Regions from separate parts of the Homo sapiens genome. Here region 2 is linked to region 1. A link means that fine-mapping ties the variant in region 1 to the expression of a gene that starts in the linked region. Tissue or cell type: testis. Region 1 holds a variant in brackets; the other region holds the start of a gene. All regions are shown on one strand. Distances are from middle to middle. Region 1 overlaps TSNARE1 (t-SNARE domain containing 1). Region 2 holds the start of TSNARE1 (t-SNARE domain containing 1).

Region 1 (5,371 bases):
GGATTTTAGTAGCAAGACCTCGGCTGACCCAAATGAGGTAAGGCCACCTGGGGTCTTCACATGCCCTGCCTAATGTGAACACACAGAAGCCCTGCTGTTGCGGGACGAGCTGACTGGGGAGACCCCAGGGATGCGAAACAACATCTGGAAGGTTCACAGTGTGTCTTCACACAAATCCAAGACCTGTTCAGTCCATGCTGTCCTGGCCATGCTGGCCCTGAAGGCTGGGCTCTGCCTCCGCATTCCTCAGGAGGCTACAGGATAAATTTAGATAATGGATGTACAACACATGGCCTGGCACACAGTAGACCAACCATGGGAGTCTCCAGTGCTCAGTAAGACTCAAGTAGGGCAGCCTTGAGTGAGCAGCCGAGTACTGCAGAACTGAGCAAGGGTGGCATCCACCCTGTTCCCTTGCCAGCCTTCCCGGAGTTTACATGGAGAGGCACTGAGCCTCCATTCCACCAGCAACCAGCACCAGTGTCAGCCACACGCAGATCCAGCTTTGAATGGATCCTTCAGCCGCAGTTGAGTCTTCAGATGATGCAGCAATGGCCAACATCTACCTACAGTCTCACAAGAGACCCAGAGCCAGAGCCACCCAGCTAAGCCGCTTCCAAATCTTGACTCACAGAAACTGTGAGATAACAAACATTGATTTGGTTTCAGCCACTAAGCTTTAAGCTAACTTGGCATGCAGTACCAGTAATGGATATACCTGCTTAACATGTTTCAGAGGCTCCACGGACACTAAGGGCCTTCCCATGTTCTGTCCCAGCCCTGCCCGGCTGCAGCCCAGGGCCCTGTGCCCTGGGGACAGCCATGCTCCAGTGCCAGCCATGTGTCTCAGTACCCATTCCTCCCTGCCTACAGGAGCTGGTGAAGCTTCCTGATGAGCTCTCCTCACTGACGCCTCATTCCTCTCCTCTCCGGTCCGAATGCACACTCACCACATGGCCCAACATGTTCTGTGCACTGACTGCTAGCCCCAGAGAAATTGCCAGTCATAAACTTCTGGAGGTCAGTGCCTAGGAAAAGAGAGGCTTCAGGGTGGCCTTGCCCCAGTGGCTCTGAGTTGCAAGAACACAGGGCACCCCTCTGCCATGTGCACCACTGGGTCCCTAGAGCCCATCCCATGCCTAACACAAAGGAGATGCTCAACAAACACATAGAGGATGATGAAGGAAGGAAGAATGAATGGATGCAAGGAAGGAAGGATGGAAAGATGGATGATGGGTGGATAGGTGATAGATGAATGGATGGGTGGAAGGATGAATGGTGGATGGGTGGATAATGGACGAACAGATGGTGTACAGGTGCATGGGTGGATGGTAGCTAGGTGGATGTGTGAACAGATTGTGGATGGATGGATAGATGGGTGATGAATGGAAGGTAGATGGATGGACAGATGGTGGATAGATGGGTGGATGAGTTGATGGATGGATGGATGGATGGGTGGATGAGTGGATAGATGGATAAATGGTGGGTGGGTGGATGGATGGATGAATGGATGGATGGATGGAAGGATGGATGGATAAATGGATGGTGGGTGGATAGATGGGTGGAAGGTGGATGGATGAATGGAGGGTGGATGGATGGACAGATGGTGAATGGGTGGATAGAAGGGTGGATGGTGGGTGGATGGATGGATGATGGATGGATGAATGGATGGATGGTGGATGGGTGGATGGATGGATGGCAGATGGATAGATGGATGGATGGATGGTGGATGGGTAGATGGATGGACAGATGGACGGTAGACAGGTGGATAAATGGGTGGATGGATAGATGGATGGATGGTGGATGGTTAGATGGATGGTGGATAGGTGAATGAATGGATGGTGGATGTGCAGATGAATGGATGGTGTACGGGTAGGTGGGGTACTCACCACGGGTAGCATCACTTTCGGACAGAGGTGGCGATGATGATGATGATGACAAGCAGGGCAGTGACTCCAGCTGATAGGAAGCAGCACTTGATCTTGTGTCTCTGGAGCTGGGAGAGAGAGAGAGGTTGTTTCCATATCCTGGTCCTCCAACCTCCCATCCTCAGGGGCATTTGGCTTGTGCATACTTTGGGCTGTGGCATGCAGGGGCTGAGTCCACCCTGGGGCAGGGTCCAGAGAGAACCTGTGTCTTTCAAGGGGCTCTGTCCTGAGCTAGCATGACTGTTTATTGAATAACTGCTCTGGGCTGGCTCTGGAGCCAGGTTCAAAGGGAGAGAGGCAGGAGACTCAACTTAAGCTCCAGAGTCAGCCAGGCATGGGTGTGATTCATGCTTTGTCCATCTTGAGCTGAGGGATCTCGGCTGTTTCTCTTCTTGGTACCTTAAATTATTTTGTAAGGATAAGATGATGCCATGGACTCCATGGAGATATTTGAAAGCCTTAAAATTAAGGTGATGCCTGGAAACTACATAGCCTGGGGCCTGGCGAATGCCAGACATATAGTCTTCACCAGATAGTCTTACTTGTATATTCTTGTGGCTATTACTAATTTAAAAAATTCTGGACCCACCATCAAAGGTCTCATGGAAGAGAAAGACATTGATCTGTGCTAAGGGACTGATTAGATAGGGATTTGAAGGCTTCATGTAGAAGGCTATACCTCATTCAGGTCCTGAATGTGGGGTGGGAAACCCCTCGGCAGACCAGGGGGTGAGAGGCAAGGGATTAAGGGAGAACCCAGAGAAAAACGGGAGCTTAAATGAAATGGTAAGTACCAAGTATCCAAAGGAGGGAGCAGGGAGCAAGGGACAGGGAATGGGAAGGGAGACAGATTGGGATGAGACAGTCCTGCAAATTATGAAGGAGTTTAGACACCACCCCTAGACAGC[A/G]GGGAAGACAGGAGTTTAGAGCAGGAGAGTGACATGTTTAGCAGTGTGTTGTTGGAGAGAGCACTCAGGAAGCCAGACAAGAGGATGGGTAGAAAAGAGATCTGAGACAAGGATGCCAGACAGGCGGAAGACTAACGTGTCCATGAAAGATGGGCAGGGGCCTAGGGGAGGGTAGAGAAGGGAGGGTAAGATGGAACAGAGTCAAAACCAGAAGGTGGAATCCTCAGAACCTAGGAGTAACTGGATAGGGGAGAGGAGGGAAGTATAAAGGACAAGCCAAGGATGAGTCCCCTCGGTTACCCCTCTGGGTCATCAGTTAAATGTTGGGATGAAAATCCATTAATGCAACCATCCATCCATCCATCCATCCATCCATCCATCCATCCACCCACTCATCCATCCATCCACCCACCTATCCATCCACCCATCTACCCATCAATTCATCTATCCATCCATCCATCCATGAGCCCACTCATCCATCCATCCATCCACCTATCCATCTGTCCATCCATCCATCCGTCCACCTATCCACCCATCATCCAACCATCCATCCATCCATCCATCCATTCAACCATCCATCCATCTACCCACCTCTCCATCCATCCATCTACCCACCTATCCATCCATCCATCCAAACATACACCCATTCATCTACCCACCCATCTATCCACCCATCCTTCTACCCAGCTGTCCATCAAGATGACCAGCCCCCAGCTCAGCTCCCTCAACTGTCTCAATGTCATTGCACCTTAAGAGGGACCCACATACTGGCCTGAAAATGACCAATTGCTGAAACAGCACCACTTCCCAGCCTTGGGAAACACATTGCTACCTGTGTTCTTGGCCAGGACACTGAAGCTCAAAAAGGTAAAGAGACCTTCCCAGGCTTCACAGTGTGTGGCAGATCTGAGGTCCAGGTCTCTCTCCCTCTAGGTGTTGTCACAAAGTCATGTTGCTGCCTGGACATCCTAGGATGTGGGCAGGGTAATAAGGGGTTGGGGGGTGGCCAGAAGGGGACAGAAGGCCAAGAGTGAATCAGACAAAGCCCTCAGCTTACTGGTTGGCGGGGGGGCAGTCAACCCTCCTGGCAGGGACAGGGCTCTGCATCAGTGCACAGGACAAGGCGCACTGAATTAAGGACAACTTCAGGACACATGACAGCGCCCATGGCTTAGGATACTGGGGTTTGTGGGTGGCCAGTGTCTCTCAGGTCCATGGTCCCCTCACCAGCATCGTCCCAGTCAGTAGTACAGCTGCCCTTTCCCAAGCATCATCCCCCACCACGGCACAGAGGTGGGTCCCACCAACACCCCCAGTCTACAGAAGAGGAGATGGCTCAGAAAGGTGATGTGGCCTGCCCAAAGCCACCAGCCTGAGATCTGCAAAGCCAGGATTGGAGCTGGGCACCCAGCCACAGAGCCTGCTGCTGACTCCACACCCTGCCCCATAAGCCCCGTGCACTTGGAGTTACCTGTGCCCTGTATGTGCCATAAGAGTGCAAGGTGGATTTTCCTGTGCCAGCCCTACTCCCACACTCCTGAGACGGAGCCTGAGGAACCATGCGTGGGGGTCTCCCAGGTACCTGAGGGGAGCAAAGGGCATGGAAAAGAAACAGGAGCTGAGGTCAGGCAGTTCCACTTCCAGGCCTGTGCTCCACATCACTGCCAGACCGTGGCCTTGAGCACAGTGCTGGGCCTCTCGGCAGCAGCAGTTCCCGGCCTTTGACTTGGGGTGCCATGCCCTGGTCTGCAGGCCGAGGTGCATGCTGGAGGAGCTGGTGCATGGGAAGAACTTGGTAGCCATTGCTGGAAGCACTCCCCTGGGCCTCTATCCACACACCCAGCTCCAGACCCCAGGCAGCTGACAGGCCCGGCCTGGCCTCATACTCCTCTTCAGTTGGGTGTTGTGCCCATGCCCTGCCCAGACTGGGCCCTCGGCCACTTCCTGTGGCCCTGAAGTTGGCCAACCGAGGGCCTCCTTACGTGGTCCCAGGTCAGGCCTGTCTCCCTGCGCTACGTCTCTACCCTCCATCCCCCAACCCGCTGGGTTCAACAAATGAGGGGAGGGCGGCCGCAGGGAGGCAAGGAAGCTGGAACCACAGAAACGGACAGGCCAAAGGGGCGGACCCGGATGTAGCAAAGGATGTGCCCCAGAGGAGCCCGAGGGAGCACCTGCGGAAGAAAGGCAGGGAAAGGACGCCCAGGGACACTCTGCAGCTCCAGCCAGCTGCTGCCAAGCCCGGCCCTTCCACAGCCTCCTCTCTACCCATCACCAAGCCACCGCTCCGTATCTGGACACCGACTTCAAGGGAAGAGGCGGGCGCAGGCGATGACAGGCAGGGCCCAGGGATGCCAGATGCTGGGGCTGAGACAGTTGGCAGAGGCAGAGGCAGAGGCAGGCCTTTGAAGAGGGCTCTGCAGCCCCAGACTTGTCCAGCTCCCCTCCCCGACCCCAACTTCCGCATCAGCTGCTGCGGCCCAGCAACATCCCTGGAAGGGAGGAGCTGCCTGGCCGGAGGGGCTGAGCTCCTGCTGT
Region 2 (5,371 bases), 170 kb after region 1:
TCAGTCTCTCCATCTGGGAAATGGGGACAACAGACCCTCCTCCCAGGGTGACTGTGAGAGTAAACTGAGTAATGAACACAGTTCCCTGGTCACCTGGCACCAGGAGGTGCTGTGACCAGTATCATTAGTGTCACCACCTGCAGACACTCACCACCCCTTTTCAGGACCGTGGAAGGATGCACCCACGCCGTGTCGCGAATGGCTTGGTACAGCCATGGTCGAGGCATGTTTGTCTTTCCTCCCCACCTGGAAGGTGACTCCCCAACTCCGCCCACCTGGAAGGTGACTCCCTGATTCCATCTCAAGCTCCAGCATCGTGACCTAGCTGTACTTCTCACCACATTCTCCTCAAAGTCTTACGTGTCCAGTGTATTTATTCATCAAAACCTGCTAGGTGCTTATCCTACTCTCGGTGCTGGGTGGGGTGCTCAGGACACAAGGGTGACACAGCAGAGGTCTATGCCACAGAGGCTCCCAGGCACACAGGAGAGACAAACACGGGAGTGCCAGGGCATTCCAAGCAGAAGGCTCTGCATCGACAGGCACACCAGTGAGAAAAGCCACAGACTATGCAGGAAAAATGACTGCACTGTCAGGGACATAAAGCAGGGACTGAAGATGTGGCAGGAGCTGCTGGCAGGAGCCAAACCCAGGACCTCGCTCTGCAGGCCATGAGGAGCTGTGGAAGAGACTTAGGGACACCTGGCTGCCCATGAGCCCCTAGACTGAGTGCCTAGGTCTAGGCTCTTGACCCAGCATCTACAGAAGGCCAGACTCAGGGGAAGTGTCCAGGGAAGGTTCCTGGATAGAGTCAGAGCAGCCAGAGGCTGCCAGATGTTCATGGGGCCAGGCCAGCAGAGGAGGAGAGAAACAGAGGTGACCCAGCCAAAACTCAACCTCCTCCAGGAAGTCGTCTTGGATTTGCCAGCCTCCCACAGCCACCTGCATTCACGGCCTGTGCTGCTGTGTCCAAACATTTGTTCTACCAGATTTCTGCTGCGGTCCTGTGATGTATGGGGTCGAACGGTATGAAAGCAGCGGTTCAGTCGGGGGAAGCACTCCAGTACTAACAAACTTCAGCTTTCTTTCAACTCAATACTGTGTCCACACTGGGAGTATCCTAAGCAACAATCCCCACCCCTGTCTCACAGGCACTAAAGATAAAACAGAAAACAAGCAGATGAGTGACAATGACAAACAAGAAATACTGTAGGGAGAGCGGTCAGAAAGGTGAGCTCAGACATACCGGAAGCGGAGCTGCCCCCAAGCCAGGAGCGAGCCAGGAACTAAAAGAAGAGGCAAGTGTGCAGCAGAGGAAAGAAAGGGCGCCAGGTGTGGCTGGAAAGGCACCTGGCAGGATGAGGGGCGGAGAAGCACCGGCGGAGCAGCACGCGCGAGGCCCATTTTGAGCCGCACCACACCGCTCACAGAACTTCCTGTGATAAGCAGTGTTCCCTACCCGCGCTGCCCCACACAGCCGCCACCAGACACGTGTGGCTACTGAGTGTCGGACATGTGACCACTGGCACGGAGGACCTGAATCCTTCACGTTAAGGACAATGTAAACAGCCACACATGCCTAGGGGCTACCACACTGGACATGGCAGAGCTTCCAGAGCAGGAGGAGTGCGCCATGAGGCAACAAACACGAGGTCCCTGGAGAGTTTCTGCGGGGGCAGCACAGATCAACATCACCTGAAAGTCCCTGGTGGGGATGTCGCAGGCCCCAGTACCCAGGAAGCACCTTCTTACAACTTGGAGAAGGGACAGAAAGGCATGGAGAGGCAAGCACACAGGAACGGGGTCCCCAGCTCAGGCTCGAAGGCGGGCTCCGCTCGTTGAGCTGCAGGGCACCAACCCTTGCACCCAGCAAGTAGGCGCTGGGGCGCTCCCCGGGACGGCACTGACCTCCAGGCGCAGGCACCGGCTGCCCGGCCCAGAGCCCACCGACCTGGGGTCTGAACAGCGCGCGAGGACCCGCCGAGGGGCTCATGTGCCCGCGGGCCGGTCCCCGAAATGCGGCGCTCTCGCGGGGCTGCGGCTCAGGGTCCCTGGCGCCCCTGGGGTCCACCCCCGGCACGGTCCCGCCCCCTCCCCTCCCCACCGGCGCGGCCCCGCCCCCCGCCCGGCCTCCCGCAAGCCCCATACCACGCCACGCCGCGGCCCCCGCCGGGCTCCGGGCCCCGCGCTGGTCCCCGGCCGCCTCGCCCTCGCCGCCCCACGCCCGGCCCCGGCCAGGCCCCAGCCCCACCGCCGCCGCCTCACCTGGGCCTCGGTGGCTCGCGGACCGCTCCGGGCGCTCACGGCGGGCGAGGCGGGCGGGGCGGGCACCCAAACATCACGTGACGGCCCCTCCCGCCGCCGGCGTGCGCGCCCCCTCCCGCACCAGCCAATGGCCGCCGGTCCCGGACGCGCGCGGGGACTACCCGCCCCAGAGGCCCCGGCGCGGAGCCGGAAGCGGCGCGGACGGCGGTCGGCTGGGCCAAGAGGCCTCTGCGGGTGCGCGCGCGAGTCGGCTGTCCTCACTTGCCTGGTGGTGGGCCTCCGTTTCCCCGTTTCCCCGTTTTGCATATGGGGATGACGGCGAAGGTGGAGGTCACGTGGAGGGCGGCGGCCCGGCGCTGAGGCGCTTCGGGAGCGGGCTCCGCCCAGCCCAGGCCGAGCCCGGACCTCACACGGGCCAAAGCTGGAGCTTCTGCGGGGCTGCGCAGGCGGCGGGTCTCGGCCAGGGCAGGGCCGGGCACCTGCGCGTCTCGCGCTGCGGGGACGGGCGTTGGGCCCCAAGTCAGGCTGCACGGGCTCCGCGTGGGGCCGTGCTCGGCCGGGGGCTGGCAGGCCCCGCGGGGACTCCGGACTCCCAGTGTCACCAACGAGGAAACTGAGTCTCAAGACATCTGAGGGACCTTTGCCCGAGGTCGCAGCCCCTCCCTGGAGGAGCTGAAGTGCAGAGTAGGGAGCCCCTTGCGGAGACCCTCCTGGGACCTCCTTCCGCAGGGGCCTGGGGCGCCTCCCTTTCCCTGCTCTGCCTGCGGGCACTGAGCTCCCGAAAGACTCCAGCCCCTCGCTCTCCCGGTGACCTGCTGGAGAAGACACCTGGGAGGAACCTGCGGACAATGGGTGTGTGTCCTTGGGCCGCCAGGGTCACCTTTCAGCCTGTTTCCCCAGAGGTGAACCAAGAGTCACACCCAAGGCAGGAGAGCAAGAGTGATGAGTCCGCTGCACCTTCTCCGGCAAGCGGAGGTTCTCCCGCCGCCCTCACTCTGTGATGCTTGCTGTGCTTGCGAGGCCTACGCCAAAGCCCTGCGGGCAGCCCTGGGCTCCCGCGGACAGCCTTGCTGAGCTCCTGGGAAGGAGGCGTGCCCTCCCCTTCCCCCACCGCCCCGCTGGCTGGGGTTCTCTGCAGCCCAGGACTGTGCATGTGTGCGCACACGGGTTCTGTGAACACGAACACAAAAGTGTGCTCGTGGACACTGCGTGGTACTGTGTGCACACAGCGCACGTCTGTGAGCTGAGGGAGTGTTCCTGGACACCAGGTGCAAGTGCACAAGTGTGTGTATGCTGGCACAAGTGTGTGCCCAGGCGCAAACATGGGAACGGTAGTATATGGCACAAATGTGTGCACACATGGGTGGGAGGGAAGAGGGGCACATGCCCACCAGCATTCCTGGGCTGGTGCTCAGGCCGGCCTGTCCTGGGCCCACCCACGCTCCTTGCCTTGGTGTATTTCAGTCTCCCCTGGGCTCCCAGGAGGCAGTAGTGTGTGCCTGTCTTGCAGCCTCGCCATGATTTGGACAGGGCTTCACTCTTCGGCTAGGACAGCTAGAGTGCAGGGAAGCCGGCTCCTAACCAGGGAGGATGCCCATGACTGCTGACCCCCCAGCTTCCACTTGAAGGGGAAGGTTCGCCAGGACCAATGCCTGTCTGAGAGCTGTCAGTCTGGACTGAGGATGCCGGGTGCCTGGCACGGTGCCCACCTCCCCTTCCGTGGCTGGCGCTGTCTGTCTGGCCGCCACCTCACTCAGCCTCCTCTGACAGCTCCGTGTTCAGGTGTGCAAAGGAGGGGAAAGTGAAGCCCTTTCCTCCCAGGGCAGACCACCTCCAGGAGCCGCTTTCTTGACCATACAAGGCGTATATGGGGCTGTTTCTGTGCCTGGACACTGCAGGGGGAATGGTCTAGCGTGGGTAGGAACCACCAGAGGAGGGGCTCCGTACCTGTTGGCTCCTCCGAAATCTGGGATGAGCCCGCCTGAGTGCCCCACAGCAAGTCAGGGAAGGTAAACCTCTCCGTGGAAGAGCCAGGAGCCCACTCCCTCAGGCTGAGCCGATGGGGAGGGGGAGGAGGATGCTAAGGGGTCCTCAGGAAGGGATGAGGGAAATAGCCAATAGCTGCCTGGGCCTAGGGCCGGGGCTCCCCTCCCTTCCCTCATCTCTGCCCCTCCCTGGAAGAGGTCATCACATGACCTCGGGCAGCTCTGGGCTCCCTCCTTCCTCCAGAGAAGCAGGACTCCCTGGGAAGAACTCTGGTCCCACCCCTTGGCCAACCAGTGAGACCAACAGGGTGAATAAGTGGGATTGGCCCCAGGACGCTGAGTTCTGTTACCTAAGGGGGTGGGGGTTGCCTGGTCCTCAGCTGGCACCCCCCAAATTGGATCTACCATTCCAGGTCCCAGAGGGAATGTGGGCAACAAGGTTAGGGGGTGGTTCCAAGGCCTTCGGAAGGAACGTTGAGGCAGCACCCACTAAAGCCAACCTCAGAAATGCTCCCTCTCTGAATAGTAGCATGGACTTCTCAGGGTTTAAGCTGAATTTCCAGGTCAGTGTCAACCTATGGCTTTGTCGTGAGTTTCCCCACCCTCCCACCCTTCCTCTCTACCCTCTGCTGCCTGGCTTCAATGTCACCTGCTCAGGAGACCATCCCTTGCTCCCCTGCAGCCCCTGCCTGGACAGGAGAAGGCCTGTGCACCTCCTGCTCTGCTCCCAGCACAGCTTCTGCTCCAGCAAAGCCCACGGGCACTCAGTCCTTGATTCCTGCACCCACCAACCCCGCCGAGCCGCCCTCACTATTACCCAGGCCTCCTTTGTCCCTTAGCAACAGAACCCCAGTTTTGTTCAAGGCATCAATGTAGCCAGCCTCACCAGCAGCTGGGCCAGCTGTGACACTGTTTGCCCAGGGGATGACTGCAGGAGGCACAATCGAGCCTCCTGGTCCTTTGGAAGGGGCAGCTGTGGCCACCCACCTCACTGACAGTCTTCCTTTCTCCTGGCTCCAGCCTGAAGTGTGGGCACGGCATCCCGAGGACAGCAGCCATGTGGCCAGCAAGGGGCAGGGTCCCAAGCTGAGGATGTGAGCAGCTGCCTTGGTGCCCCAATG

The links.
Region 2: it holds the start of TSNARE1, and the variant in region 1 is fine-mapped to the expression of TSNARE1 in testis (GTEx, PIP above 0.99).

The regions. Positions count from the first base shown.
Region 1 is chr8:142,227,584-142,232,954 of GRCh38, forward strand. TSNARE1 (t-SNARE domain containing 1) reads right to left here. Exons shown (of 14, transcript NM_145003.5): 13 at 1,890-1,996. The coding sequence ends at 1,901. Among named protein-coding and RNA genes, the nearest start is that of LINC00051, 32 kb to the left of the region's middle. The variant A/G (reference allele first, on the strand shown) is at 2,837.
Region 2 is chr8:142,400,839-142,406,209 of GRCh38, forward strand. TSNARE1 (t-SNARE domain containing 1) reads right to left here and starts at 2,344. Exons shown (of 14, transcript NM_145003.5): 1 at 2,266-2,344. RefSeq lists silencers at 1,903-2,042, 2,183-2,752, 3,193-3,242 and an enhancer at 2,474-3,249.